Regions from separate parts of the Homo sapiens genome. Here region 2 is linked to region 1. The links come from fine-mapping of genetic effects on gene expression. A gene starts in region 1. The other region holds a variant in brackets. All regions are shown on one strand. Distances are from middle to middle. Region 1 holds the start of MB21D2 (Mab-21 domain containing 2). Region 2 overlaps MB21D2 (Mab-21 domain containing 2).

Region 1 (15,409 bases):
AAACAAAAAAGAAAGCCAAGTTTTTCAATAAACTTCTTACAGTGTAGGGTTTAGAGAGGTTTTGTTTTTGTTTTTGTTTTTGTTTTTCTGTGAAGGAATCTCCCTCTGTCCCCAGGCTGGAGTGCAGTGGTGCGATCTCAGCTCACTGCAACCTCTGCCTCCCAGGTTCACACCATTCTCCTGCCTCAGCCTCCTGAGTAGCTGGGACTACAGGCGCCCGCCACCACACCCGGCTAGTTTTTGTATTTTTAGTAGAGACAGGGTTTCACCATGTTAGCCAGGATGGTCTCGATCTCTTGACTTTGTGATCCGCCCGCCGCAGCTTCCCAAAATGCTGGGATTGCAGGCATGAGCCATAGTGCCCGGCTTTTTTTTTTTTTTTTTTTTTTTTTTTTGGACAAGATCTAGAAAACAAAACAGGCATTATAACAATTCCTTTGCCAATGGTATAGACGTGCTCAGAGAACTGGCTTCTATCATTAAACAATGAGCATGTAAATTAATATGTTAAAGGAAGACCCTTTCTTTTTACTGAGAACTTCTCCAAATATAAATTTGGGTTGCACGGTATGTATATGATGTCTGTGGCATGTTTCTGTACCACAGAACTTCTTTGTATCGGGTGGAATGAAATAACCTGCTAGAATCGGACAGTAAGAAAGCCAGAAACGGCTGGGCACCCTGCCTCACGCCTGTAATCCCAGCACTTTGGGAGGCTGAATCACAAGGTCAGGAGATCGAGACCATCCTGGCTAACATGGTGAAACCCCGTCTCTACTGAAAATACAAAAAATTAGCCGGACGTGGTGGCGGGCGCCTCTAATCCCAGCTACTTGGGAGGCTGAGGCAGGAGAATGGCCTAAACCCAGGAGCGGAGGTTGCAGTGAGCCGAGATCGCGCCACTGCCCTCCAGCCTGGGCAACAGAGGGAGACTCCGTCTCAAAAAAAAAAAAAAAAGAAAGAAAGAAAGAAAAAGAAAACAAAAGCCAGAAACAAGGAAATATGTATTTTTAAGCCTAGAAAAATAAAAGACATAATCCTTGATCTTCGTTGGGCCTTACATGAAAATAGATCTCAAACACCTTGTGTTTAGTGCAGAACATAGCTCTGTCATGGAGTGACTCCTTGTAGGAAGCTAGTTTTCAGTTTTCCTGTTAACTGAAAATGGATCATAGAGTCAGAGCTTCTCAGAGTTGAAAGACATTTCAGAGGCCATAGTCTCAGCTCTTTACTAACTTAGGAACCTAGCATAACCCTGATGGGTGGATAACACAGCCCTGAACACCTTCTGTGATGGGGAGTTTACTAATTCATAAAGCAGCCTATTCAGTGCACAGTGGCTCTCATTGTGAGAAAATGCTTCCACATCCTCAGTCAAAGTTTTATGTCTGTAGCTGCCATCAATCCCTCCTGGTTCCACCCTCTGAAGCCACATAGGAGAAAAAAAAACTAAATTAATTTATATTTAATTAACTAATTGACCACAGCAAAGCAAGCCAAACAGCTCCACTTTTCCCATGACAAAGGATTATGGTCTATCCTTGGCACTCGATCCAGTACCCAGAGTATATGTAAAGTAGGATACGGATTGGTGTGGAGAACCCAGAACAGGGCCTTTTGGCAAGTTCAAGGGCCAGAACAAAATGTAACAGTATCAACGGATTGATTGGTTATGAGGGCCCCACCGTTTCACCAGAACAGCTGATGGGGTTAAGGCAGTCGTAATATGCGAAGAGGATTTTTCGAGTTATTTTAAATTACCTGCAATTATTACTATGCCCTTTCTTACCTGATGTGTAGAGTTTAAGTCAAATGGGTTTTCCCAAAAGTGAGAAGAATTGAAAATATGAACTTAATTTTTAAAGTTATTTTGTCGTAAACTTTATTGAGCAAAGGGCCTGAGCTTAGATTTTAAGGTAGAGAGAAGAGGAACAAAAGGCTTTGTTTACAGTAAGGTAACTTGAATCAAAATTTGGAATCAGATTGTGTATGTGAAATGCTGATAAAGCGTACCCATTCTCTAAAATGTGAGAGATTATTGGTGTTTTTCTGTATACTCAATGGGTGCTAACAACAGATTCAGTGAGGTTTCATGGAAAGAACTTGGATTGTAAATCAAAAGACTCAAATTTGGGGTCTGAGCCTGCATTTACTTTTTAATCAAACATTTATTGAATATCTACTATGTTCTACACATCCAGTAAGAGGTACTGGTGATACATCTGTGATCAAGACAGACAGTGTTGCATACATTTTTGTGAGGGAAACAGGAAAGTTATCAGGCAGATACAAGGAAGTGTGAGAACGAACAGTGACGTAAGTCCAGAGGGAAGGAGAGTCTACAAAGGAATTTACCTGACCTAGACCTGGGTGTGTGGGGGTGGAGGAGATCCAGAAAAAGCTCTTTGCAAGGAAATGACATCTAAATAGAGAGCTGAAGGATGACAATTAGCCACAAACTTCACTATCTCTCTGAGCTTTAGTTTCTTATTTCCAAAATGCAAAAAATAATAATAGTCCTCACTAACCTGCTTCAGTAAGAGGCTGTGAGGAACCGATAAATGAATTTTGTGATGAGCGCTTTGTTGAACTGTAAAGTGCTCTATTATCAGGAGGAATTGTTAATAATTGCTATCAGATATTGTTATTTCCATCCCTAGAGTTCATTTCCTTCTTTTCACACGCACAGATTTTGCTTCCCTGAGTATAGCAGGAGTAGAGAATAAAACAAGAGACTGGATGAAGAGATTGATATTGCTGCACTTTTCTCCATAGCTAGATCATTCACGCCCTCAAGGTCATTAGAGTACAGGGTTGGGGGAGAGAGAGAGAGCAGAGAATAAAATGAGAGACTGAGTGGAGAGATTTACATTGCTGCACTTTTCTCCATAGCTAGATCACTCACGCCCTCAAGGTTATGAGGATACAGGGTTGAGGGAGAAGCTGGGACTAGGCCCTCTGAACCATGTGAACACATCAGAGCAGGTGGGCTTCACATGGGCCTCACTTTATTAGGACTGAATAGTCTGAATAGAGAGGGTTATTTATATTGTTCTGGGGACCTCGCTAATATTTCAATGGCCTAAGGCCGGGCGCGGTGGCTCACGTCTGTAATCCCAGCACTTTGGGAGGCTGAGGTGGGCAGATCATGAGGTCAGGAGTTCAAGGCCAGTCTGGCCAACATGGTGATTCCCTGTCTCTACTAAAAATACCAAAATTAGCCGGGTGTGGTGGTGTGTGCCTGTAATCCCAGCTACTCCAGAGGCTGAGGGAGGAGAATTGCTTGAATCAGGACCCAGAAGGTGGAGGTGGCAGTGAGCTGAGATGGTGTCACTGCACTCCAGCCTGGGCAACAAAGCGAAACTCCGTCTCAAAAAAAAAAAAAAAAAAAAAAATTAAACGGCCTAATCTCATTAGAAGTAACAGTGCCCGATTTGCCCCAAGCAGGGACGTGCGCACCTCTGTTTATGACTACCAAAGAGATTTAGCTGTAGTCTTGATTGTCTACCTATTGCCAGGAAAAATCAGTAGCCAAGTAATTCCAAATGTCAGCAGTTTCTGGTTTACTGAGATTTAACTTCAAGTGAAATGAGTGCATTTTGCCCAAGGGCCACTCTCCTGTTTTTATTTTTATTTTTTAAATTATAATTTTGATCAAATTTCGTGGCATTTTTCATGTTCCTTCTGGCAGTCTGGAAACACAATAACAAATATTTAGTAAATTTAAAGTTAGTATGAAAAATAGAAACAGAATTGTCTCTACTATCTAGTCAAGTTTCCCTTCTCTTTCTGTGCCCTCATTCTCCCATCTGGTAAATAAGGGGGGTAGATGGAATTTATCATCTAAGTTCCTTCTACTGTCAACATTCCACACGTCTGTGATGTTTGCCTCTCTTTTTCCTGCCTGCATTTCAAATCATAAAAAACCCAGGCCACTTCCATTTGTTAGACTTTTATTGAAAATCCAGCTGCCCAAGAAGGCCAGATCTTGTAGCCTAGGCTGCTATTTAAATCTCCCTCAGACCAGAGAATCTTTGTTTAAAATTATATTTTGTTAATCCATCATGTGGATGTGGAGCTTGCTATTTTTAATGCAGGCTCTGCACAGCCCAGTTATTCATGGCTGAGAGTTTGCCACAGAACTTCAGAGCTGTATTTAACAACAAACAGCTCCAGAGAAGCAAGATGAAGACTTCTTTCACATGCTAATAAAATTTGGGAGTTGGGAGTAGAAGGGCAAGTTCTACCTCTAAGTGTGACAGCAGTTTGGAAATGCAGGCTGTTACTCTGTTCTGTTTGATGCTGCAAGAGCCAGCAAAGGAAAAGCCTACCTTAGTGCTTGTTTAGATGGTAGACTCCACTGACCTTTGTCCATCTGTCAAAATTCTAGAGATATGCATTTTTATTCAAGCCTCAGACACTCTTTAACATCTTCTAATAATGATTTTCTCTCTCTCTCCACCTTCCTCTCTATCTCTCTTCCTTCTCTTAGGTCATATAACATACACAGGGAGAAAAAGGCATAAAAATTGGGGCATTTAATTAAATGCATGCAGAAATACTTACATTTATAACAACACTTAACTAAATACTGGGAAACCATAGATAGCTTACATTGAGATATTTAAATTGTAGCAAAAATCACCTAAATTCTGACTTCTTGGACTTTGAGGGATGGTATTAGTTCATTCTTTTTTATTATTATTTTTTCTGAGAAGGAGTCTCCCTCTGTTGCCCAGGCTGGAGTGCAGTGGTGCAACCTCGGCTCACCATAACTTCCACCTCCCGGGTTCAAGCGATTCTCCTGCCTCAGCCTCTCAACTAGCTGGGACTACAGGTGCATGCCACCATGCCTAGCTAATTTTTGAATTTTTAGTAGAGATGGGGTTTCACTATGTTGGCCAGGCTGGTCTTGAACTCCTGACCTTGTGATCTGCCCGCCTTGGCCTCCTAAAGTGCTGGGATTACAGGTGTGAGTCATCGTGCCCGGCTTCATTCATTCTTTTATATATTCATTTGAACATATAAACTAAGGTCATAAGATGGGTCAAGAACTAAATTAAATGCAGTGTTTACACAGGTGAAGAAACACAGTACTTGCCCTTGAGAAGCTCAGAGGTTAAAAAGTCTCCCAATAGATCAATTCAGGAAATTATGGTTTTTGATCGTTTTTCTCTATTCTTCTAATTCAACAAGGGATATTGACACAATCTTATCAGCGTTCTATTAGAGCCTAGGAAGGTGTTAGTTTACCATCCAATTACATTATCTGGATATGCGGGCTCACTGAGGGTCCATGATTCATAGAAATCTGATCTGGCTGACGGGAAGGAGAACAGACAATGAGGAACATCAGAGAGACCACTCACTCATTCAAACCCCCAGGGTCCAGCACTACGGCACAACAGGAATACTTTCTGCTAACAACCTGTTGTTTCTTTATGGATATAAATATCATAAGAAAAGGTAAAATTAAGGGAAGATTAGTGATGCCTCATTCATATGTTTGGAAATTAACAAATAAAAAGTGTTTCGATTTTGTTGTCTGAAGTATTTCTTAACTGTACATGGTTTGGAGGTAACTAGAACCATTCTGCTCTATGGAATGACTGCCTCAGCCAGCTGTCGCACAGGTGCCTGCCATTGATCACTAGTGAAGCACTGACAGATGGGAGTGGATCACTTTGTGCTGGAGTTCCAAACACTTATGTGGCTTCTAGTACTGCCCAGGTAATGTTAATATCCTCTCAGGATGAGAAGTCAGGGCAGCATAGCAGAGCTGCGAAAGCCAGAGCTTGCTTTGTTTGTTTGTTTGTTTGTTTGTTTGGAGATGGAGTCTCACTCTGTCACCCAGGGTGGAGTACAGTGGCGCGATCTCGGCTCACTGCAACTTCCGCCTCCTGGGTTCAAGCAATTCTCCTGCCTCAGCCTCCCAAGTAGCTGGGACTACAGGTGCACGCCGCCACAACTGGCTAATTTTTTGTATGTTTAGTAGAGATGGGATTTCATCGTGTTACCCAGGCTGGTCTCGAACTCCTGAGCTCAGGCAATCTGCCCGCCTCGGCCTCCAAAGTACTGGGATTAGAGGCGTGAACCACCACGCCCTGCCTAAAAACCAGAGTTTTTAAGTCACTTCCTCATCAGTCCACCAGCATTTATCTAGGCATGGATCCTCTCTCTTTCATACTGAGTGGGTGAGGAAGTGTGTTTCAAAGAGAAGGAAACGAAAAGTAAGAGAAATTAACTGGTTATGCCACAATTCTTCACTCATTACTTGATTCAATAAACATAGAGGACCCTTCGGTAGGACCATATGCTGCAGGAAATACAAAGATGAATAAGATGTAGCCCTCATCCCCAAGAATCTTTTAGTCTAAAACTTGCATTAACAATGATGAAGTGGTCAGGTGTGGTGGCTCACGCCTGTAATCCCTTTGAGAGATCTAGATGCAAGGACTGTTTAATCCCAGGAGGTTGAGGTTGCTGTGAGCCACGATTGTGCCACTGCACTCTGGCCTGGGCTACAGAGGAAGACCCTGTTTCAGAAACAAACAAACACACACACACACAACCCAAAACAAAAAGCAATGATGAAGCAAGGTCAAAATTCATTAGCATCATATGAAAGCTTCTGAGAGTAGGTTCTGAGGAAGGAAAAGTTGCCACCAGCTTGAGGGGAGGGTCTCCGGAAAGCTGTAAGAAAAAGGCAGACGCGGATTGGTTTTGGTGTAAACGGAGTAAAGAAGAGAGGAATTCCAGGGGGAGGTCAGTGGTCAGGTCTGTGTTTTCTAAAGATCACTCTGGCAACAAGTTGTTACTAGATTGAGGAACAGTGAAAGAATTAATAACAATAATAGTAGAAGCTGATAATAGCTAAGTACTTATTATGTCAGTCCTTGAACTAAGTGCTTGACCTGTTTTATCTCACGTAATCCTTAAAACAACCTGTGAGACAGGAATTATTATTCCCATTTTATAGGGGAAGGCATGGAAGAGTCCGTACTTCCTTCCATGTCTAACAAAACAATTTGTATTCTTGGCCATGAGAACTCGGGTAAGAAAGTGAAACAGACCTGATCTAAATCAGGGACTGTGGGATAGAGAAGAGAGATTTTGGAGAATTAGGGAGGAAGATAACCTATGTTTCTCACAGCCAATGGGCCTCCTAAGTGTTTGAATGATACACCCCATAAACACTAAAACCACCTCTGAGACTCTATTCTGCCTAAAGGACTATGACTTAGATTGAACCTGCCTTGTCATGTAAGCCTAACTCCATGGTAGGAGCCATGTCTTTTGGTTATCACTGTCACATTCTGTCACTCCATCTGGCAAATGGTGCGTACTCAAATTTTATCTGTTGAATGAGAAAATTTTCATCTTGTCATCCAACATTTCTTGGAACCTGGGGCAATACATTGTTTCCCCTCTCCCACACCCACACTTCAGTTTCCCTATCTTTATATTAGAGTAGGTTGAATCTCATTAACTCATTATATGTTAAGATAAATAAGCTGTTATTCAGGTCATTAATTACCTTGGGCAAAGGTAGGGATATCTAGGGGTTAGTGGGAGTGCCAATACTGGGTTAGATGTGGACCCTCTTTTTTTATACGCTCAATCCTATCATCTTGGCAATCCAAGAGGAAAAGGGTAGAAGACAGGTTTCATATTCCTTAAGGCAGTTTCCTTTACTATTTAAAGGTATTGGAGTTCTTGGGATAGAGAGGTAAACGCGCACAGAGATGTCCTCCCCCAGGACACCGCCCTTAAAATCAAACGGAGGAAGACTTTCTTCTCCTTGAATGCGCTTGGCAAACCCTGCCCAGAAAGGGGATGGGGGGACGGCCGTGGAGGTGGAGAAAGAATGCATCCACACCTCGCGCGTCTTCCCAAGTACGGATTGGCAAGTGGTATATGCGTGCAGACCTCTGTCATTTATTTATTTTCCTTTCCACTGGGTGCGCTGTCCCTTTAAATGGAGACGCTGGTGCTGGCTCCGTAACACCGGAGCCGGCAGCTTGTTGATTTCAGAGCTGGTGAATTTCACATTGTTTCCACTTCACTTTCCTCGCCCGGGGGAGGCTCCAGTTGGCTCTACGACCGCCGTTGCCGCTGCCAGAGAGGGCCAGGGCAGGGCAGGGACGCGCAGCATCGGGGCGGGCGTGGGGCCGGAGAAAAGGGTGTCGGGGCCACACACGCACCCTCGCTGCAGTCCAGCTCCTCCCGAAGCTCGCACGCCCAGAGCGCACGGAGCGGGGGACTGCCCGCCCAGACGCCCGCCCGCCAACCCGCCCACGAGCCGGGGCCAAAGCCTGGGAGCCTGCGAGGGGAGGAGGCCCAGGGGGGCGGGGTGGGGGGCGGGGGTGGGTGCCGCGCTGCCGCGGAGCTGCTACTCGGCGCGTTTTGCATGAAGATGGCGGCTCCCACCGCCAACAAGGCAGCCTCCCTGGGCTGTAACAACAAGCCTGCGTTCCCGGAGCTGGATTTCAGGTCGGGAGCTCGGGTGGAGGAATTGAACAAACTCATCCAAGAATTTACGAAGCACGACCAGCGGGAATACGACGACCAGAGAGCGCTGGAGATTCACACAGCCAAGGATTTCATCTTTTCCATGCTGGGTAAGGAGGAAAAAGGGGGAGGTGTGTGTGCGTGTGTGTGTGTGATGGGAAGCGGAGTAGAAAACCCATTGCCGCTTCTCGACCTCTTCCCTTCTGGGTTGCCTTCCCGAGCCGGTGCCTTGGGTATAAGCCATCTCTGTTCCGCCTCTCTCTTCTTTCTCCGCCGAAAGCCGAGCTGCCTGCCCTCCCCTCCTTACTATACTTTACGCCGGGTCTCCCTTTCCCCCTGTTCGCTTGCTCTTTTGTTAATTTCTCCGCCACCTGGGGCTGGCAGGCAGGTGAGGCGTTCGCGGTGAAGCGTTGCACTGTTGGGGGAAGCCCCTGGAAGCGAGTGCAGTCCAGGTGAGCCCCTGAGGTGCCTTCAGTTGAGGGATTTGGCTGCCGGAGGCAGGGACCTCCGCTTTCCCGACGCCGGCTCTTGGGTGCTCTCCCGAGCTTGGGAGCGGAGACGGCTCAGGGCTCTGGCTTGGCGCCCGAGCGACAAGTTGCTTCTGTCGTCTCGCGGCGCGGCGCTGTCATGCCGAGCCCCCGGTGGCCAAACTTGTTGGGTGTTCCCGAGTAACCCGCTGAAGTAGTCTAGGCGTCCGGAGTTCCTGCAACTTTGATTTGCAAATTGACTTCTCTTATGAAGCGATCGGAAGCATTTCCGGTGCTTCTTCAGGGCTCTCGCTGAGCTCGGAATTCTTAATTCCCAGCTCTTCCGTGACTAGGCGCGGAGCTCTGGCCGCAGAGGAGCGCCGGTTCCCTGCTCTTTGTGTATTGTCTTAGCGCTGGCCGAAAGAGGTGCCCAGAGTTTCCAACCGCGGAGACGTCGGGGGCTAGAAAATGTGTCCCCCACTCCCACCTCCAGCCCCTCACCTACGGCTCCTGAAACATGATTGAATGCTGTGTAAAGGAACATAATTGAGCCAGGCCCGGGAGACCGAGCCCACCCTCCCCAGGTGTCCTGCCGTTGGGATTATTGCTACTGAGGTGTAGTGTGAGTTTGCCAGGCGCCTGGGTTGTAACTTGCGGCTCCGCCAGCGGATCCGTGGCTGTCAAGCGGTGCGTGGCCGGCGGTCAACATTCCGAAGAACTGGTACTCCAGGGTAGCGCTGCTCTAACGCTCGTCTCTGGGTGCTCTCTACAAATAGATAAGCCAATTTTCCAGGTGTTGAAAAATTTGATTGGGAAAGGTCTTTTGGCCACAGACTAAGACAGGGCTTTTCTCTTTCTCCTGCAATCTAATTGGGTTTCAGCCGGCTGTTGCTGCTTCTATCCTGGGATACCTTCTTCCTTCTAGGTTTTCTTCTTCCTCACTGCCCAAGGACGGGGTAATACAGACTGAACGTGTCTGTGTCCGCTGGTAGTTGTTCACGCGTTGGGAAGTTAGATGAAACATGTTAAAACTCTAGGCTGGTTTTTACCTTTTGCGCCGCACTCTTCAAGTGTGTCTTACGTTGCGTATGAGGTTGAAAAACTATTGAGAGATTCAGCCGTTCAACTATGTAGATGAATAGATGAATTAAATATATATATATATATATATATAAAACCTGGTAGGAGTGAGCTTCCACAGGGAAGCCTAAAATGCTTACAAAGCCAAAAGCCAACACAGTGATTGTCAGGAAGGTGGGGCCACACACAGAAGGCTGAGCGCAGTTACTTAAGTTGTTTAGTTAATCATAGCCTTTCTCTGTGGCATAAATAATGGAAGTCTGCCATTGTGTTAATACAGCCCCCAGATCAGTTCTGATGTCACTTGCGTAGGTCATTTACTAGAAGAAGGTACTGGGTCACCACCAGTTAGGGTAGTCATGGGTCAGGAAATGGGATAATGTAGGGAGGGTAAATTTAAGTGCCTGGCTCATGAGGAACTTCTGTGCTTAACTCCAAAGCTGATACACTGAATCAGCAAAGCTTTTATCCAAATATAAAAAAGTAAATTATTCTAGGGTGCTTAATTTTTGCATGTGTTTAATGCCATGGGTGGCATTGTGTTGACAGGTAAACTAGATTTGCTTCTATTCCTTTTTACCCAGTTGACCTTGCAAGCAGTCTTTCTTGCCCCCTGGGAATTTAGCATTTCCACCTGCAGGAGAGAAGATTCAAGAGAGTGTCATTTAAGCCTTTTGCCCCTCTGGACACTAGAAGGCAGATGGCGAAATGAGCTTGCTTGCCTGTGTGTGGTGCTGCATTCATTTGCGAGTTCCTTGCTTTCCTTTAATGAGATGCTGGCTGCTCTACACAAGTGGAGGTTTGGCGACAGCAAGGGTTCCTATGTGGATTTACTTTTTCTAAAGCAGATTTTGGCTTGGCTTAAAGAACAAAATCATTTTTTTTATACACTTTGTTTCACTTGCCATAGCTTTGGTTCTTTGATGACTATGCAAATGAAGTCTCTTAATGACCCCTAGCTTGTTAAGGTGTTACTTGGGTGGTACCAGGCCCTCATTTCAGGGCGGGGGGGTGGAGGGTGGCCAGTCCTCTTGGCTTTGTTCTGTATCTGAGCTGCACCTGGGGATTGTTAGCAGCTTACAGATATTATCCCCTCACACAGAATGAAGTGGCCAACCACGAATTGGGTGCAAGCCTCTTTAGTGGAGCTGAGAAAAATACTGCCTCATGTTTCAGGCAGTTGGCAGGGGTGAGGCATGTTACTCTCTTTTTGTGTAAGATTGTTAGCCAAGTCTGAAGCCCCTCCAGCTTCACAGATCCTTTTCATTTTGTCTAGTTTGGAGGAATTTTACACTGAAGAGCAAGGAGGTGGTAGACAGCTGTCATAATCAATGACCTGTCAACACCAAGACACTCCACTGTCTTATCAAAGTAGGGTTCTGCACAGGCTGTGGGGTTGATCTGAGCTTGCTGGTGGTCACTGTGGTCTCTGGGGTCTGTCCTGATGCTCTCTGTTTGTACAGAGATTCTGATTTTTTTTTGGAGGCAGGTGTTAGCTGCAATTGTCTAGATTCACTTCTTATTCCTCTGTACCTTGGTCTTTTAGGAGAATGATTGGTGTTATTATCTAGTTAATATTTGAGAGCCCAGACTGTGCGAAAGGCTGGCAGTGCATAATAAACACCATTTATCAAAATTCAGGGAAATTGCCAGAGTTCATTAATGTTTTAATAATATTTGGTATTAGCATAATGTCTCTGCCAGCTCTTTTGTTATCTTCATTCCCTGGTGAGGTTCGATAGAGACTGGTTTGTGTCCCCATTGAACAGATGCAGAAAAGGGGGTATGCAGATGCTGGAGAAGGCAGGAAAGAAACAAGCCGTCACCTAACCTACAGACCAAGTGGTCGGTACCATGGCATGATTTTTACGGTAGTTAATCATTTACTAATCATCTTCTCAGGGCCAGGAACTTCACATAGACTTTTGAGGAGGTATTGCTTTCCCATTACATAGATGAAGATATTGAAATTTAGTGGGGTGAAGAAAGTGGATATCCAGGGTCACAAAGCTAATAGATGGTAGAGATGCTACTGAAACTCAGGTCAGCCTTACTCTAAAACATGTTCCTCTTCTCCTACTTGAGACTATTAAGAATAGATGCATAAAATCCAGAGGAAAGGCTTTGTTTTAAAAAATCACTTCTTTCAGGATTTTGTTTCGATTTTAGCTATAAGTTTTAGCGTAATATAAGTAGATTTCTGGAACAGTCTGAGTTCAAGTATTCTATAATAAGATCTCCTATTTGAATTTTTGATTGAGAAAATCATAGTAATTATAATAAAATGTTAAAATCTATAGTTTCATTCCCAGTCTGCCTCTTGTTGGCTTTGTGGTCTTAGTATTTTCTCTCTCTTTTTTTGAGACAGGATCTTGCTCCGTTGCCCAGCCTGGAGTGCAATAGTATGATCATGGCTCACCGCAGCCTCAAAGTCCTAGGCGTAAGCTATCTTCCTGTCTCAGCCTCCCTAGTGGCTAGGACTAGAGATGTGTACCACCGTGCCCAGCTAATTTTTTATTTTTTAAAATTTTTGTGTAGATGGAGTCTCACTATGTTGCCCAGGCTGGTCTCAAAATCCTGGCCTCAAGTGATCCTTCTGGCTTGGCCTCCCAAAGTGCTGGTATTACAGGCATGAGCCACCATGCCTGGCCAGTTTTTTCATTTATTAAACATGGATAACAGTAAGCATTGTTTTTCAGAACTGTTATGTCAGAATGTGAAATTACTTTGCTAACTAAAAAAGAATATATACGTGAGTTTATTATTTAAATAAATGTTTGTTTATTTATTTATTTGAGACAGGGTCTCGCTCTGTCACCTAGGCTAGAGTGCAGTGGTACAGTCTCAGCTCACTGCAACCTCTACTTCCTGGGCTCCAAGTGATCCTCCCACCCCAGCCTCCCAAGTAGCTAGGAGTGCAGGCGTGTAACACCACGCCTGGCTAGTTTTTTGTATTTTTGGTAGAGACAGGGTTTCGCCATGTTGCCCAGGCTGGTCTCACACCCCTGAGTTCAAGCAATCCTCCTGCTTTGACCTCCCAGAGTGCTGGGATAAAAATATACTTTCTTAGAAGATCCAGTGAACTTAAATTGGAATTATTTCTGCAGCTTGACATCTGAAAGAACTATGCAGTACAATTAGGGTAGCCCAGGAGGATTTTGGCTCATACCATGTGCTGACCATTGTGCTAGCTACTTTGCCTAAGTCCATTAGCTCATGTAATCTTTTTTCCACAACTTTGTAAGCATAAGTATCATGCCTATTTTGGAAGTGAAATAGGTGTTGTTACCCTTTTTAAAGATGAAATGGTGAGGCTCAAAGAAAGAAGTCAAGAACTTAGGCCAAGATCATTCAGAGTTGGAGACTGAATCCAGTTATTCCTGACTCAGAAGCTCATGTTCCTTTTACTGTAGTAGCAATCAGTTTCCATCACTTTTGGGTGAGACATACTATACTCAGTAGCCTGCCTAGTCTGTAGGAGCAAAGATAATTTCTTTTTTTCTTTTTTCTTTTTTTTTTGAGATACAGTTTTGCCCTTGTTGCCCAGGCTGGAGTGCAGTGGCATGATCTTGGCTCACTGCAACCTCTGCCTCCTGGGTTCAAGTGATTCTCCTGCCTCAGCCTCCCGAGTAGCTGGGATTACAGGCGCCCGCTACCACACCTGGCCAATTTTTGTATTTTTAGTAGAGATGGGGTTTCACCATGTTGTTGGCCAAGGCTGGTCTAGAACTCCTGACCTCAGGTGATCCACCCACCTCGGCCTCCCAAAGTGCTGGGATTACAGGCGTAAGCCACCATGCCCCGCCTGAGATAATTTCTTTTTGTCTTCCTGTCTCTGTCCCTCTTTCTCTCCCTCTGTTTTTTTCACGCATTTGACAAATACTTAATGAATGTAATAGTGTTTGCCAATCAGCGTGCAGGGTTCTGAAGATAAAATGGTGAACAAAAACTTTGAGAAATTCATAAGGGCCTTCAGGGACCCCTCCCCTGTTTCCTTTGCCCACCAACTCTAGCAGGATATTTTGCTGGCTGTTTCTCCTTTCAGGCCAATAAGTGCCATGTGGCCATTTCAAAGATGTAAATGCTTGGTGTGGTGCTCCTGGACCTACCATATTTTTAGGCACTTTCTACATCTCCAGAGTGGGTAATTTTGAAGCCCTACCTTTCCAGTGTTTGATTGCTACTTTTCTGTTAATGAATTCCCCCAGCAGGATTTACCATGGAAATTTATGGTGCGTTGGTGTTTTATGGGCCTCCATGTGCTTGGAAAGTTCCCGAGAGTTGTATTCACTATGTGCTGCATCTGTAGAGTGCACAGGATCATCTCGGAAGTTTGTTCTATCTCTGAGAACATTATGTATCCAGGGCAGGGGATCTCTCCAAACATTCATTTTTGTGCTAGTTTGGATTGGTTTCAATTCCCCCTCCATGGTTCTGGGCAGTGGCTGCCCTTCGTCCTTGAGAGAAGAGGCCTAGAACTGTCGACAGTCCTGGGTCTTCCTGTCATTCCTTGTCATGCCACTCATTGGATAATACATTGCTCACAGTTAGGCTGAGCCCCTTTTTAATTCACAGAAATATTAGATTCTAACAATTCAAAATCTCTGGTCCCATTCAGACCTATTGAATCCGAATTCCCTAGAGATCCCCCAACAAGCTGCTCAGCATGTCAACATCCTGTCCTGTGTTAGGCTTGATGTTCTGCATTCTCTGTTCTAGGCACAGTGAGCATGATCCCAGTTGACTTTTGAGACTAGAACCAAGCTGCTGAGCCTAATGAGCAGATAATGTCTGTCTGCTCCTGGAAAGTAATAGTGGAGTTCTTCCACCTGGGACAGAGACAAAAAGGCATAGTGAGTGAGACAAGGGTGTTTACTATGTCACAGGTTTTAATAGGACTTTACTGTATCATTTAATCATCACCATTACACTTTGAGGTTAAAAAAAAAAAACTGTGGTGAACCCTAGAATTAGAAAAATATAGGAATTCATCCAAGTTTACCAGCAAGTGAGTGGCATAGGTGGGACTTAACCTGGGTCAGGATGAATACAAAACCCTGGCTTTTAACAAGGACAATATTCTGCACTCAGGACCAAGAGACCCAGATTTTACCTCTGAATCTCCAGTTATTAACATTTGCTGTGTGACGTTGGGCAAGTCACTCAGACTTTAAGCCTCAGTTTCTAAATATATAAGTTGGGCTTAATCATTATATGTACTTCATGTGTTCAGGTGCATTCAATTCTGAATCTGAAAGTTTTTATATAGTAAGAGAAAAGGGAATTTCTGAGTTCTTGTACCAGCTCTGTTTTGTACTATGTGGTATGTGTTTTACCCTAAGTCTCCTAAC
Region 2 (15,409 bases), 120 kb after region 1:
ATGTAGGAGCTCCTGGGACCAAGGGACGATTGTGTATTGTTGTCTTGTTTAGGAAGAAAGATACACCATGAACACAGCCCACAATGACAGTAGATGTCGAAAGTGCTAATTTAGTTCAGGTCAAGACCCTCCACTAGGATGTACAGGTTGTTCATTCCATGGGGTACCTGGGTGAGAGGACAAGAAAGAGCTAGAATCCAGCCTGCCCTCTGCCTGCCACCCTGTGTGTCGTGCCACACGATGGCATTCACTCAGAGGAAGCAGCCTTGACTAGCAGCAGTCTTGGTACAGCCAGGGGAGAGAATACTTCATTCATTTCCCTTCATCTAACATGTTTTGTGTGCCTTGCATGTGCTAGAGGCTTTAAATAGATTATCTTGTTTAATTAAATCTTTAAAATAACTCCGTGGAATCTGTGTTTATTTGCTCTTCCAGTTTATGTGTGGTAGGAAAAGGGAAGAACATATGGGGAACATGAGCTAAATATCTACGATGCGCTTAGACACTTCATAGCAATCCTGTAAGGGTGGGTTTTTATATGCGTTTACTTACTTTTCATCAATTTGTTTGTTTTTTAATAGATAAGGAATTGGAAACTCAGAGAGGTTAAGTAATTTGTTAGCCTCACTTGAATAGTAAATGACAAGCCCAGGATCCAAGCCCAAGCCTATGTTGAGTCCAGTGTTCTTGCGTACATATCAGTGTCAAAATGGGGAAATACTAAGAAAGACTCCTTTGGAGTGACATCTTTTAAATCAGCCCTGTTACTATATATATATTCTGGTCAATAGGGCATTACCATTACCATACGTGAATTAATCAGTCTTCTAAAAAAATAAAATTATATGCAGTTGTCTCAAATTATGCAAAATAAAGCAGACTCTTTGACATATAAAACATATTATCCTAATTGTGAGTACTAATAACTCAGAATATTATTGAAAAACTGGAAAGCTCCGTTTTTGTCTTCTGTATTTCCAGGGTCTTACAGTCTATTTGGGAATACTAATGGCTCTATCAAGGCAGACCAGGCCCATTCTTCTTTATGATAAATGTGGATGGTCAGACATGTTCTGCCAGTTGTCCCAGGTCCCACTAAAGATTTGACCAATAAAAATGAAAAACTGGCACATTGCCCTGAGACCTCTGCTACTTCCCTCTTAAGCCATTGTGCATTGTCATGGGGAGATCAGGACATATGTGTTATTCTGGTCTTTGCGCAAATGTTGGAATGCAACAATGCTGGTAATCTGTCACTAAGGCCGTATGACCCCACATGAGTGATTTCTCCTCTTGGAACCAGTTTTTTCTTCAGATAGATGATTTCTGGGCATGAACGAGGAAAGGCCTAAAATCTTTTCCAACTGGGGTCATTAAGAATTTCATGGATTAGTGACTTTCTTAGAAAAAGGTGGCTATGCCCACATCTCAGACGTTCCTCAGAATGTCAGGTAAGCTTGACAAAAATACTTCCACCCTGGAAACATAAACCATAATATTTTTATAGGAAGGTTTTATATTGTTTATTGTCAACCAAGGAGACTTACCCTAGGGGATGCATCAGAATGAAAGAAGGACTTTGTCAACATCATCACACCGTGTACCCTTCCTGCCATTAAAACCCACTGCTGGAATAAGGCACTGTTTGTTACTGGTATGTGCTACATGAGTTGGAGCTAAAAAAGGAAACTCTTTTATATGAAACAATGACTATTACTGAGATATTCAGGCATATAGTCAAAGGTATATAAAAAGATAAAATTTATCTAATTTTGTAACTTTAATTATAAGACATAAAAATTTTACTTCTTTTATAAACCTTTCTCCCTTCAACATATGTAAGTGTGTGTGTGTGTGTGTGTGTGTGTGTGTGTGTGTATCTGTTTTAAAGAAGTCTATACAGGTACTATTTTGACTTACCTACTTAGTATTTCTTGAACTCTCTGAGTTTTCACAGACTTACTGGGGTGGGGTTGTAAAGACAACAAGAAATCATACTTAGTTTTTGTGCTCTAGTATTAGCAATCTGGCATTATATGTTTGCATGATGAAGGTTTGCAGTTTCAATTTAGTGGAATATGATATAGTTTTATTCACTAGAACATAAGTCAGGGACAGAGTTCCATTTTTCACTTGATATTCTAAAGATAATCAGTAAATAACTGAAAGCATGACGTGAAACACATTCCTTAAACTTAGGACCTGAGTATCTATATAAAAGGGTACTATTAAGATATTCTTAAGTAAAAACTCTGAAATATATCAAAACCAAGAAACAGTGAATTACAGGAAAAGAGGTTGAGTGGCAGTTTTACTTAAGAACAAGCATATGCCAGTGCCTCCATGAAAAGAAGAGACCCACCCAAGGGAATAGCTATCCTCTATCCTTCCTTTTTTGTTTTGCTGCTAACAAGCTCAGTGGTGTATGTGCATCTTCCTTCTGTTCCCACTCATAGCTTTGGATAATCTAACAGCTAAACAGCCAGAGTCACTAGATCTTATCCTCCAGTAATTACACAGAAAACCTCGGATCATTGCAGAGATGGCACTTGTTGGAACTGATCCCTACAGCCAAAGCGTACAGTTGAAAATTTTCCCTCCTCTGTCTTTTTCCCTTCCAGCCCTGTGTTTTGGTTGCATGGCAACCCATCTGCCATGATAGCTGATGTCAGCTCATTTTCACTTAAACTTAGCCCAGGAAAGTTTTCAAGGAAGACATTTGGGCTTGTATAACGCTGGGGAAGGCTCGAGTTCTGTTACCATATCGTTTGTAAAATTGCAGACTAATGGGCTCAGGGAGGCTAAATGGAAATGTGGATGTAGGAAGGGATTAGCTTCTGGAACAGTGTGGCCTTAGGGACTTTGTTTCTTATAGGGGCTTAGTAAATGTGTGTCTGCAATACTCTTTCTGCTACTAAAGGGCTTTCTTCACTTTAAAAGGAATAAGAAGTGTTCAAAATTACCCTATCTCCTGAATATTAGAATTTAGCCAAATACTTGATGTTGACTCCTTTGAATAAAGGGTCAACATTTTAACGAGATGCATAAGCATCATTGAGAGGAAAGAGAACCTTTTATCATTGGCAGGAATTTTCTAGTGTGTATATTGACAAGTGAAAACAGGTTAAAACTTCTTAAATCCAGCAGAGGGCAGAAGGGAGTTTTAGCTATGGCTTACCCAAGACTCTCCAAACAAGATTGTAACAATCCAAGGCAAAATTCAGTGGCACTTTTGTAGACAAATTATCTCCAGGTTGTTAATGCACAAGTTACCCTGATTATATAGACGAGTCTTAGTTGGTGGGCTCAAAGCCAGTTTGCTTCTGTCCAGGACAAAAGCATATATAGGATTTTGAGTTAGTTACGCCTAAGAGGAGACAACAGTGTGTACTCAAATAACAATATCACTTTAATAGATTCAGATCTTATTTACTAACCACAACACAGCATTTCACAGTACTTCTCACGTATATTTATGGTATTCTGAATGGTAGAATGAAAGGATGTTTGAAATAATGAAGAGTAAACGATTTCATTATCAAATATATCTCACTGAAACTGACTGTTCCAACATGTGAGTTCATAAAATAATGAAAATGATTTTCACAACCTAATCTGGAATCTGAGAAATCAATTTTATCCTTTAAAGCAATAACCAAAACGTGGGATGGTAGTATTTCTTTACATGGCAAAGATGAGGTTAATATTAAAACATAATGACATTTGAGAAATGGATCTTTGTCTTGGCATTTATAAGAACTTTCAATCCGGATTAAGTTTGGCTTTAAAAAAGAAAACACTTTAAAAAGGAAAAACATATTTTCCATGCTGAAGACGGTTTTTGTTTGGGTAGTAGGTAGTATCTTCTGTTTTGCTTGGATAGTATTTAGTGTAGTATGTTGGGTTTCTCAGGACGCAGCCTCTGAAATGGAGTTAGGATGTTTATGAAGCAGCACCCTTGGGATCTACACCTGTCGAAGTGGGGAAGGAAGCAGGTTCAAGTAGGAGAAGCTGAGCTTCCCTGCAGGCGCATCATTCGCCACAGCCAACCCCACTGGGAACTCAGAGTTTGAGTGGCCCTTCAGAGTATCCTGAGCTGGGACACTCCCACACCGATCAGTTATTGGATGTGCACCTGCAACCCCCATCCCAGCCACAGGACCTGACCTGGCTAAGACAGCCCTTTGCAGCTGAGACAATCCTTAAGGGCTAGCATTTAAGCAGCTGGAAGTCCTTTATTGAAGAGGGACCTGGATGCCGTATCACAGTGCAGATAGTGTGAGAAACAGCCAAGAAGTCAGGTTTGTTGGATGTTCTTTCTGATGAATTGTTGACACTATAATGTTGGCTAACTTACGGTTTTAAAAAGAAAATGATAACTTGCCATATTTCTGTGTGTAAAGAATTGTACTAAATAAAAGACTTTTTCATGGTTAATGTGGTTTGGAAAATAGGATTTTAAAGAGCATATTTTAATAAATGAGCGTTAAATTTTAAAGTATAATTGTCTTAGTTCATTCAGGCTGTTATGTCAAAGTACCTAAACTGAGTAGCTTATAAACAGCAGGGATTTATTTCTCACCATTCTGGATGTCAAGAAAGCCAAGATCAAGGTGCCTGCAGATTCATTGTCTGGTGAGGGACAGCTTCCTGGTTCATAGATGGCTGTCTTCTCACTGTGTCCTCACATGGCAGAAGGGGTAAAGAAGCGCTCTGAGGTTTCTTTTATAAGGGTACCAATCCCACTCATGAGGGTTCCACTCTCACGCCTGATCACCTACCACAGGCCCCAGCTCCTAATACTATCACATTGAAAGTTGGGATTTCAACATGTGAGTGGGAGTCACGAACGTTCAGAGTATAACAATAATAGTAAGAAAACACAGGCATATGGTTTATTTGATTTGGGATTGTCCTATGAAGAGCAAACTATGAATTATAATGAATAATGGAATATTATAATACTTTGTGGTAGGTCTTGATCTTTGGGGAAACACTGTTAAATAAATCACAGGATGACGCTGGTAGTTTGTCAGAGAATCAAGCGTAAGCAAGTATATAATGAAGGAGGGAAAATGTATATGTTGTTTATGGAACAGTCATTTAAGTCTAGCCTTTAAGAATTTATGTTAATTCCATCTATTAATGCTATCTACCTATTAATTTCATGCATTTTTTCCCTTATCATTTAGTCATAGCTTGAATTATGTTCCTACTGCATGCACGGAGTCTTCTATACCTGCTTAATACATGAGACATGGTTCTCAAAAGGACCCACAATCTCTTAAAAAATCACATTTGTTAATATCATCGCCAATTTAATCAGAAACGTATACAATTCGAGAAGATGTCACGCTCATGGTGCGGAGTTTTCTAAATTTAATTTTCCCTTAGAAATTTCAGCTTTATCATTGGCAATAAATATTGTCAGTAGTTTCCTTGAAGCCAGGCTCATTTTGTTCATTTCTGAAGAAAATGTCTACCAAATACCCAAATCTAAATAGCCATAGTTTTCTGTTGTTCTTTAAAGTAAAAATGGCGTTCCATGAACAAAGAGGCTAGTTCAGCTCACAACTCAGTTACGTGAGTGCTTTTCCTGAAGACAGATTTCCTATTTCAGTATGAGGAAGACGGGTTTTATGGTTATTTCCATTTCATCACACAGACTATTAGGAAGATAGTCTTTCTAATGGCTCAGAGGTTGAGATTCAATAAAATAACTTATTTTTCTTCTCCATCAAGGATTTTCTTAAGTAAAACTGGGTTTTTTAAAAAAAAATTGCTAATGCATGTCAGTGGTAAAGAACCTACTGACTGCTAGTACAGTTTGGCATCAGTGTCTTTGCTGCTAAGGCACTGGCAATATTATCCTCCCTTGTTTCTGTGCCATTAGTACAATGGCAACACAGTAAAAAAGTCAGACAAGACTGGGCGTGGTAGCTCATGCCTGTAATCCCAGCACTTGGGGGAAGCCGAGGTAGGAGAATTGCTTGAGGCCAGGAATTTTAGACCAGCCTGGGCAACATAGCAAGACCCTGTCTCTTAAAAAAAAAGTCAAACAGTGTGTTAGTATTATTATAAAGAGAGTTATGAACTCATTACCCCTGAAAGTGTCTCCAGCCCACACTGAGAACCGCTGGTACAAAGAAGAGTGTAAGCGCAAAGAGCCTGGGGAAAGAAAACCGCTTAGGCAATAGATAAAAAAGGCCGAACTTCATATGATGGCAGGAGAGATGGAGAACAGGGAAGGAAGTGAGAAACCCTGGCAGAGGTTCCATGGAAAAGATTTGGCAGTAGAAGGGCAGCAAAGAGTTGAAATGTACTGAGGTTTTCAGTCTGCATAACTGAGTGGATGGCAATTCCATTAACTGAGATGATGACTGGGGGAAGAGGGGCCCTGTTTTATTATTGAAAACGATACTGCTTTTCACACTGAGAGAGAAAAATCTATCATAATTCTTGCATTTGGAAAAGGGTGGATTCTAGCACTAGTGAGAAAGTACTGTTGGCCAGGTCTCTGCAGCAGCCTGAGATTTGATTTAGTACTGATAATGAGTTTTGGTTCTTGGAACATCAGAGCATTCTGTTTCATGCATAAGACTCTTATGTCTGTGTTTCCTGTAATAGTGTTGTTTTTTTCTTCTTTATTTCCAGGAATGGTGCAAAAGCTGGACCAAAAGCTTCCAGTGGCTAATGAATACCTGTTGCTCTCTGGAGGTGTCCGGGAAGGCGTGGTGGACCTGGACTTAGATGAGCTTAATGTCTATGCCCGGGGTACTGACTATGATATGGACTTTACCCTCTTGGTGCCAGCCCTCAAGCTGCATGACCGTAATCAGCCTGTGACACTCGACATGCGCCACTCAGCCTTGTGCCACTCTTGGCTGAGCCTTCGGCTCTTTGATGAGGGGACAATCAGTAAATGGAAAGACTGCTGCACCATTGTAGATCACATCAATGGTGCCACCAACTACTTCTTCTCACCTACCAAAGTGGCTGACTGGTTCTATGACTCTATCAGCATTGTCCTATCAGAAATACAGAAGAAACCCCAGCGAGGGATGCCAAAGGTAGAAAAGGTGGAAAAAAATGGGACCATCATCTCCATCATTCTGGGTGTAGGGAGTAGTCGCATGTTGTATGATATTGTCCCTGTGGTATCTTTCAAAGGTTGGCCTGCAGTGGCCCAGAGCTGGCTCATGGAGAACCACTTTTGGGATGGGAAGATTACTGAGGAAGAGGTCATCAGTGGGTTTTACTTGGTGCCTGCTTGCTCCTACAAGGGTAAGAAGGACAATGAATGGCGGCTGTCCTTTGCCAGGAGCGAGGTGCAGTTGAAGAAGTGCATCTCCAGCAGCCTCATGCAGGCCTATCAGGCCTGCAAAGCCATCATCATTAAACTGCTGTCCCGGCCCAAGGCTATTAGCCCCTATCACCTGCGGAGCATGATGCTCTGGGCCTGCGACAGACTTCCTGCCAACTACTTGGCTCAAGAAGACTATGCAGCCCACTTTTTGCTGGGCCTCATCGATGACCTGCAACACTGTCTGGTCAACAAGATGTGCCCCAATTATTTCATCCCTCAGTGCAACATGCTGGAACATCTGTCTGAGGAGACAGTCATGCTTCACGCCCGGAAGCTGTCCTCTGTGCGCTCAGACCCGGCAGAGCACTTGCGCACCGCCATTGAGCATGTCAAGGCAGCCAACCGGCTGACACTGGAGCTCCAGAGGCGAGGTAGCACCACCAGCATCCCCTCTCCACAGTCTGACGGAGGGGACCCCAACCAGCCTGATGACCGTTTGGCAAAAAAACTGCAGCAGCTAGTGACTGAGAACCCGGGAAAGTCAATCTCTGTCTTTATCAATCCTGACGATGTCACAAGGCCCCATTTCAGAATTGATGACAAATTTTTCTGAGTGTTAGCTGACTTTTTTTTTTCCTGATTCTTAAACTCTGATAATGTGTCGTGTGGTTTGTGATGCTATCTTTCTGTTTTTTACATATCCAGCCTAGATTGGATTTGTTAAGAACAAATTTTAAGTTTCCTGGTTCTGCAG[G/A]ATGGTGCAGGCTCTGAAACAGTATATTACTATTTCATATTCTGCCTCTGATTTCGTTGTTTACTTTTTGTAGTTATTGTCATGCTCTTTAGTTTGTTGGAGTTTTTTTTCTTTTTAAGGAGATCTTAAGCCATAGATGAAAATGCCCATGAATCCTCTTGCTTTTTTCTGTTTCATACTTGGTGCAAATTTGTTCATGGGTATGGGGAAACAAATCTCTTTCTGATGCTTAACGATTCTATCCTATTATTTTTATTATTTTGTTTTTGTCTTTTTTCTTATGAGCTTTCACCACTACTGATATTTGAGAATCATATGAACCTGGGAACTACTTGGCATGTTAGCTGGATTTATTTATTTTGGCCAGTGACCAGAGTAGTTTCCCCCCTTTTCCACCAAACAATGTAAACTTTGAAAGTGATAATACTACAAATTGTGTTTTGGAGCAACTTCATTGAATGTAATTGTCCTCAAATCAGAGAACACTGGGTGGTTTGAAGGGTGTCTTTGACAGTTTTCCAAGCAGAATTAAGGTTTCCAAATGTTAATTTTAGCATATGTAATTATTTGAAGCCTTATTTAAATCCTATTAAAGAACATACCATTATAATTATTATTTGCACTAATCTTTGCCATTGTCAGAATTGCAAAGTGTGTTTCAATATAAATTAACAACCACTCTCGAAATTCTATCATTTTTTCATTTTGCCCATTTCTATCAGTGAAATGATTCTTTGCATTTGCTTAGTTCTCCTTCAGTTGTGGGGTCCTGCTTTGCCCTCTTTGATATTCCTGGTTCCTGTCTTACTGAGAGAAGTTGTTAAAGCTTTATACATGTTGACCCCATCTAAAGCTGGGGAAAATATACACTTGATGAAGTAGGTGTCTTTGTATTTATTTCTTTTGGGGTCATAGAGGTAAGCTTTTTTGTAAAATCTCTACTCTTCCTGAGAGTTTTGAGAAAAACTGGCAGGAAGAACTTATAATCCCCAAATAGAAGATACCACGTCTGTTCAAAAGCAGGTATTGCTATAGAGCAGCACCCAGGAAATATCTGTGGGTGGCAGCCTTGGTATAGAGGTGTCCTGTCTTCATGAGTGAAGTTACTTGCCTGATTAGGTGCTGGAAGGTATTGGCTCCCTGTTTTGGTGTGGACTCATGGCAAGCTGGTGTTTAAGAGGTCAGGAGGCCTGCTGATCTTTCAAAGGACACCCATGATGTCTACTCATAGAAAGGGCAAGTAACGTGTTCATTTTGGTCTTGAATGTCCAAACTCAAGGGTTGGATTTTGGCCAATTGAAATCAGACATATGCGATCTTGGGTTTTTGCATGGAAATTAATGTAATGCTTATAAATGAAAAATGAAAACATTTCAACCATCTAAGTCAAACACAAAAATAATAAAAAAAGAAACATACTGGCCTTGAAATTTTGTTGTTGTTTGTAATCTGGGAATTATTTTCTTATTAGTATTATATTAGTATATTTATATATTAGTATATTTTCTTATTAGTATTATACTAACAGCAATTTTCAATAAATACAGCCATGGGCTTGCTAGTGTCTTTCGGACCAGTTGTCCATATAGTGAACAACCAACATTCAGTCTTCCTCTTTCCCCAGTTTTACTACTAATGTCTATCCGCCACATCATCCTTGTCCTTCTCAGGAAATGATTTCATCCCTAGTGCTGAAAACGCGTCATAATTGGAAAAGCTGATCTGCACAAACCATCTCCCTGGCCACAACATTAACAAGCGACACAGAATGTAAGCCGCTCCAGTCAGGGACACGCTCAGCGTTCCAAACTGGAATGCTGGGACAGAAACATACACTCTCCCTGGATATGGAGGAGAAAGCATTTGGATTCTTTTGCTACTGACAACTATCACACGATCTTTATTTATTTGTGTATTTATTTTTAATACACTTTAAGTTCTGGGTTACATGTGCAGAACGTGCAGTTTTGTTACATAGGTATATACGTGCCCTGGGTGATGTGCTGCACTCATCAACCCGTCACTAATGCTATCCCTCCCCCAGCCCCCTACCCCCCGACAGGCCCCGATGCGTGATGCTCCCCTCCCTGTGTCCGTGTGTTCTCATTGTTCAACTCCCACTTAAGAGTGAGAACATGTGGCGTTTGGTTTTCTGATCTTGTATCACGCAATCTTGACTAGAGCTAGCTTTAGGATGAAGCTGACGTTGGATGGCGTTATGGGAGCTGGGAATTAAAACATGACCTACCACACCCGCCACATCTGAGATCTCCACTAGACTTTCTAGTTAAATGAGTCAACACTTGGGTTATTTTAGCCAGTTTGAATTTGGCTCATCAAAATATTTAAACTGGTATACCAAACTACTTCAGTATATTTAAACTATTGCCGTTGTTGTGTGCCTCTTTTCTTTCTCGGGACAGATATCAGGGTTACCGTGTATTTTATCTAAGAGCTGGTTTATGCTATCTGATTTGATTCAAAAAAAATAGCCTCTATAATAATTATGCTTCTACTAAAGCCTGTTAAAAATGTATGATACTTTGACCATTACATTACACTTTGTAGATTAAAATAGTTGTAAACCATCAAAGTAGCAAGCATATTACAACAGCTGTTTCTTTAAGCTATAAACGACCATAACTATTCTCTGAACTAGTGTCTCAAATACACTTAGCAATATTTGCAATATTTTACGTGCCATGTTTTCAGACAAAACTCCATTACAGGCATAAAAAGAAACTAGTTTCAAAGATCCTCTTGGCCCTGTTTTTGTTTTGTTTTTTGTTTTGTTTTGTTTTTGCCACTTCTAGTCCTAGTGAAGATCACTCTACAAATTCTTGGTTAAACGTCTCGAAAAAGGTCCAGAGGCCTCTGGGCTCTAGTAATTTTAAAATCCTTTAAAAAATTCCTGGAATTTCCTATTGGTACTATAACCTCGGACTTTTGGCTCAGATGCTGAGAGGGCTAGAAATGGGATGTAGTCCAATACCTTTTCTTATCTGAAATTTAAGCAAATCATTGAGTTACTAACCAGTCTGTCCTCCTGAAGTTCAGAAGATCGGTTAAAATCACTTCTGTTTCAAGCACAGAATACAATGCCTTAAGGCTGGAGTCATAATTTTAACATTATTCATGGCTGACTTTTTGATCGGGGGGTATTTACAAGCTATTACTCAACGGGCCTTCAGTTCTCTAATGAGGCTGGTTTCACCTATTTTGAGAGTAGGTTATTCTCTGTCCCCTGGCTTTCTCTTCTGAAATGGAAGATCCAAAGATGCCAGTAAAGGTTGGTTTAGAAGTGGGTGGAGCCAGGACCAGACATTTAAAAAATATTTCTGAAAGTACTATACAGAATTATTTCAGAGAAAATGAGAGGCAGGCATATGTAGCTAATCTTACTTCTGGGTGGAGAGGTGGGAAAAGTGGAAAGGACGTTAGGAGCTCCTAGTCACTTGTGTACCACAGGCACACGCACATACATGAGTGTGAGCACACACACATATTTTTATATCACCAACTGGAGGTTTCTTTGGGGTGACTTTTATAATGCACTTCCTTGGAGAATTAAGCCCCCTGGTCATAACTAATCGTTGGTGGTTTGGAATCAGATCACTGCCTCACCAAGAGGAATTTTCTGAGTTGGAGTTCAGCCTTTGCTGGTAATGCTGGGAAGGAACAGGAGGCGTGTTGAGCAGCGGTGTTGGTCTCCCAGGGTCTGGGGGCTTCCTGTGGCTTCAAAGCTCAGCAGTGGTCTTTAGAGAAGGTGCCTCAAGTTCCATCCCGGTAAGCTCTCTCCAGAACCTTTCTCTGAGTCACTGAAGGGGCTGTTGGTATGACTGTTTCAGGTAGGAATCTGGGAAAGACTTCTTTCACTCTCCCACAGTCTTGCCTAGAGGATAAGCCTTTCTGTCATTAAATGGAGCACTAGCTACTACTAATATTAAAGGAAGAATAGGGATCAATCTCTGTTGCTGTTTCTTTATTAATGTCAGGTAAATACAAATGTATTTTTTAGATTATTACAGGGATGTAATCAATGCCCCTCTTTGAGGAAAACAGTTAATTTTAAAAATGCAACTCTTGGCCAGGCACAGTGGCTCACGCCTGTAATCCCAGCACTTTGGGAGGCCAAGGCGGGTGGATCACCTGAGGTCAGGAGTTGGAGACCAGCCTGAACAACATGGCAAAACCCCGTCTCTACTAAAAAGTACAAAAATTAGCCAGGCGTGGTGGCGGGCGCCTCTAATCCCATCTACTCAGGAGGCTGAGGCAGGAGAATAGCTTGAACCCAGGAGCCGGAGGTTGCAGTGAGCCGAGATCACGCCACTGCACTCTAGCCTGGGCAACAAGAGTGAGACTCCATCTCAAAAAAAAAAAAAAAAAAAACAACTCTTATGCTATAATTTCTTCAACAGTTAAACAAAGAATGTATAATCTAAACACTTTAGAATAAATATTCACCAATGGAGAATTACATATCTAAAATTCTACCTTATGTTAATTACCTGGAAAAATATATTTTTATTTTTTAGGACTGAAGCTGTAATAATTTACAATAGTTTATGCCCATTTCCAGTGCTATTAGCAATAAGTTCAAAAGCAGCATGTTTCGTAAACCATTTCCTATATCACACTGAAATTTTATATTGATTTAATGTAACTATTTTTCTGAGTTTGAATTGACAGTTTTTCTCCGCGGTTGGGTCTCGACATTCAGCGATCATCAGAGAGACCGTATGACTGGGTTTGTGTGGTTAAGAATAAGCAAGAAATCTCAGAAAAGTCTAATATTAACCATCATGTAAATACACTGTTGTTCAAAGATGTATAAAGACATATATAGCCTTAATTTGGTATGGCAGCTAAGATGAGAATGTTTGCACTCTGGACCACTCTCCCTCTCTTTTCAAGATGAATGGACTCCTAATGTGACCTTGGTGAGGGCGCATTGATATATTTTTCTCTTGCCATTTTCTGCCTCACCAATTAATCACAGAAGATAAAAGGGGCTAACTTTGAATATAGTTGAAATTTTGTTTCTTTGATTTTATATCCTTATCCGTAAAATATGGATTGGGGTAGCTGTTCTAGCTTTCACTAAAATTGCCTCAGTTTCCAAATTAGTCTCAAGTTTAGATTTATATATCTACACATTTGGAGTATCCATTTTGACAATATTATTTTTAAAAATCTTACTAAGTTGCACCAACACCTACAGTGGAGCACAGGAAACATTTATTGAACACCTGCATGTACAGTTCTTGCTAGATGCTTTATATTCATGAGCCTATTGAAGTATCACAACAACTCTAAACACGGTAAGTCTAAACTTCAATACTCAGGAATTAGGTAACTTGTTCAAAATTACATAGATAATTAAGTGGTAGGGCAGAGTCAGTGTTTGAACCCATTTGTTTGTTTCAAAAATTAAGAACTTTCTTCTGTGTTATACTGCCTCTGGTATTAGAATCTGTTTTTATTGTTTAAGATAAATTCTATTATGTGCCTGCATAGGGGGGCCTGCATTCAGATAACAGGTAAACCTTGGACTGTGTTCTGATACCAGAACCCTGAGTATTTCCAGAGCTTTTCATCAGCAGAATAGATGGATCATTTAGAGAATGCTAAGAGAAGATAAATGACCATTTATGGAAAATTTTCTGTTTAGGGCAAGGAAATGGACCAAATGTCTCTATCATTTTAACTTCTGAGCTCAGAGGAGTAGGCAGAAGAACTGTTAGTTACTATTAGCAAAATACTACTCTTTTTAAAGATGTAGGGAGAGAGGTATTTACGAATTAGCTACAAATGAAAGGTATGACAACTTTAATGGCTCAGCTGGCCTTGATGTAAAAATGAAATACATGTAAATAGACCACTTGTATTTTTAAAACAGTATTTCTGTAATTTAGAGGGAGTTTTTGAATATTTTTTGAATATGATATCTTTTAAAAATTCTGAGCATTTGTAGACTTTGGTAGACTAAACCCCCTACAAAATCTTACTGCTTACATTTTATAAATCTATAATTTACCATTTACATTAATACTTTTTTAATAGAAATAGGAATCTCAAACGACTTTTTATAGACTATCACCAAACTGAAGACTGTGAGGTGTGGTTTGAATGATGCCCTAGGTGATTGACCCAAGAGGCAAGACAGCATTCCTTGGTTGTGATAATTGAAGCTACCCTGAGATAAACAGCAGCTTGTTTCTGATCCTTGTTCCTTCCAGCCTCAACACAGCCTATGCTTGGAGGACCAAAGCAAATAATCTGCTATCATGAGCCAAACTCTTCATTTATGGGAATTAATAAATCTAAAGAAGCGTCCCATCTCACAAGATAATAAGAATGATTAAAAGTAAAGTCAGACTCATCTGATCTTTTGTGGTGATGGGCAGGTACTTTCTATAATGATTGTGGAAATTTACCAAATGACTGTCCTCCGAAAAGGAACCTGTTGAAGGAAGAATGTTCTGTAGTGGGTAGGAAAGGCGGGTTGAGGCAACCTGTGGACCAATAGTGAGTGTGTAGACAAGGGGCTGGACAACCTGGATGCAGACGGTTCTGACATTAGCTATGACACTTTAGGCAAACCTTTCCCTTTTCTGGGTCTTGTTTGCTCTCATCGTTTGTAAATTGAAGATGAGATGTGTGGCCTGTCTTCAGAGCCTTCATGAAGAGCTGTAAAAGAACAAACACCAAGACAACAGCTACACACAAATATTAAGCAATGATAACCTATGACGGTTAAATGGGATTTGCAGATCCTGGCTGGGGCTGTAGATAAACTGAGATGGACAGAAGTGGCAGGGAGTGCTCAGATAGGTTGGAATAAATGAGAGGACGTTGCTTCTGCTTGTCTCGTTCCTTACAACAGAGTGGTATCATTATTCTGAGACCTCTCCAAGGCCAATCTCGTGGTCATAGGCACAGATCTCTCTGTACCCTCTGCACAGCTGTGATTGTAACATTTTATAAGCTGTTGCTTACAAAAGGATTTTACTGGAAAACAAACTATTTTTGGCTCTCAGGTCCTTAAATATAGCTCAAGCATTGACCTTCACTAATTCACACATCAGTGTTGTTCAGCTTTTTTATACGAGAATCCTAAAAGTAAGCCATTTGGGGGTTTGCGTGACAAGAAGGTAAGTCCAGGTTGGGTATATAACCTGCTTAAATTTGCTACCTACCATGTGTTCTCCGTGTGGTAGAAACCTTTGGGGACAGTGTCTCCTATCAGAATCCTGTGACTGACAAGATCACAGCACGACTCCAGCCAGCGGAATCATTCCTTGTTGTCATATTGACGTTGCAGTCATCTTGTGTTTTTCTATGCTAAT

The links.
Region 2: its variant is fine-mapped to the expression of MB21D2 in fibroblasts (GTEx, PIP 0.95).

What each region holds. Positions count from the first base shown.
Region 1 is chr3:192,910,842-192,926,250 of GRCh38, reverse strand. MB21D2 (Mab-21 domain containing 2) reads left to right here and starts at 8,395. Exons shown (of 2, transcript NM_178496.4): 1 at 8,395-8,621. The coding sequence starts at 8,411. RefSeq lists a silencer at 8,090-8,449 and enhancers at 9,100-9,429, 11,057-11,557.
Region 2 is chr3:192,790,896-192,806,304 of GRCh38, reverse strand. It overlaps MB21D2 (Mab-21 domain containing 2), which reads left to right. Exons shown (of 2, transcript NM_178496.4): 2 at 6,655-9,490. The coding sequence ends at 7,919. Among named protein-coding and RNA genes, the nearest start is that of FGF12, 71 kb to the right of the region's middle. RefSeq lists an enhancer at 14,682-15,409. The variant G/A (reference allele first, on the strand shown) is at 8,061.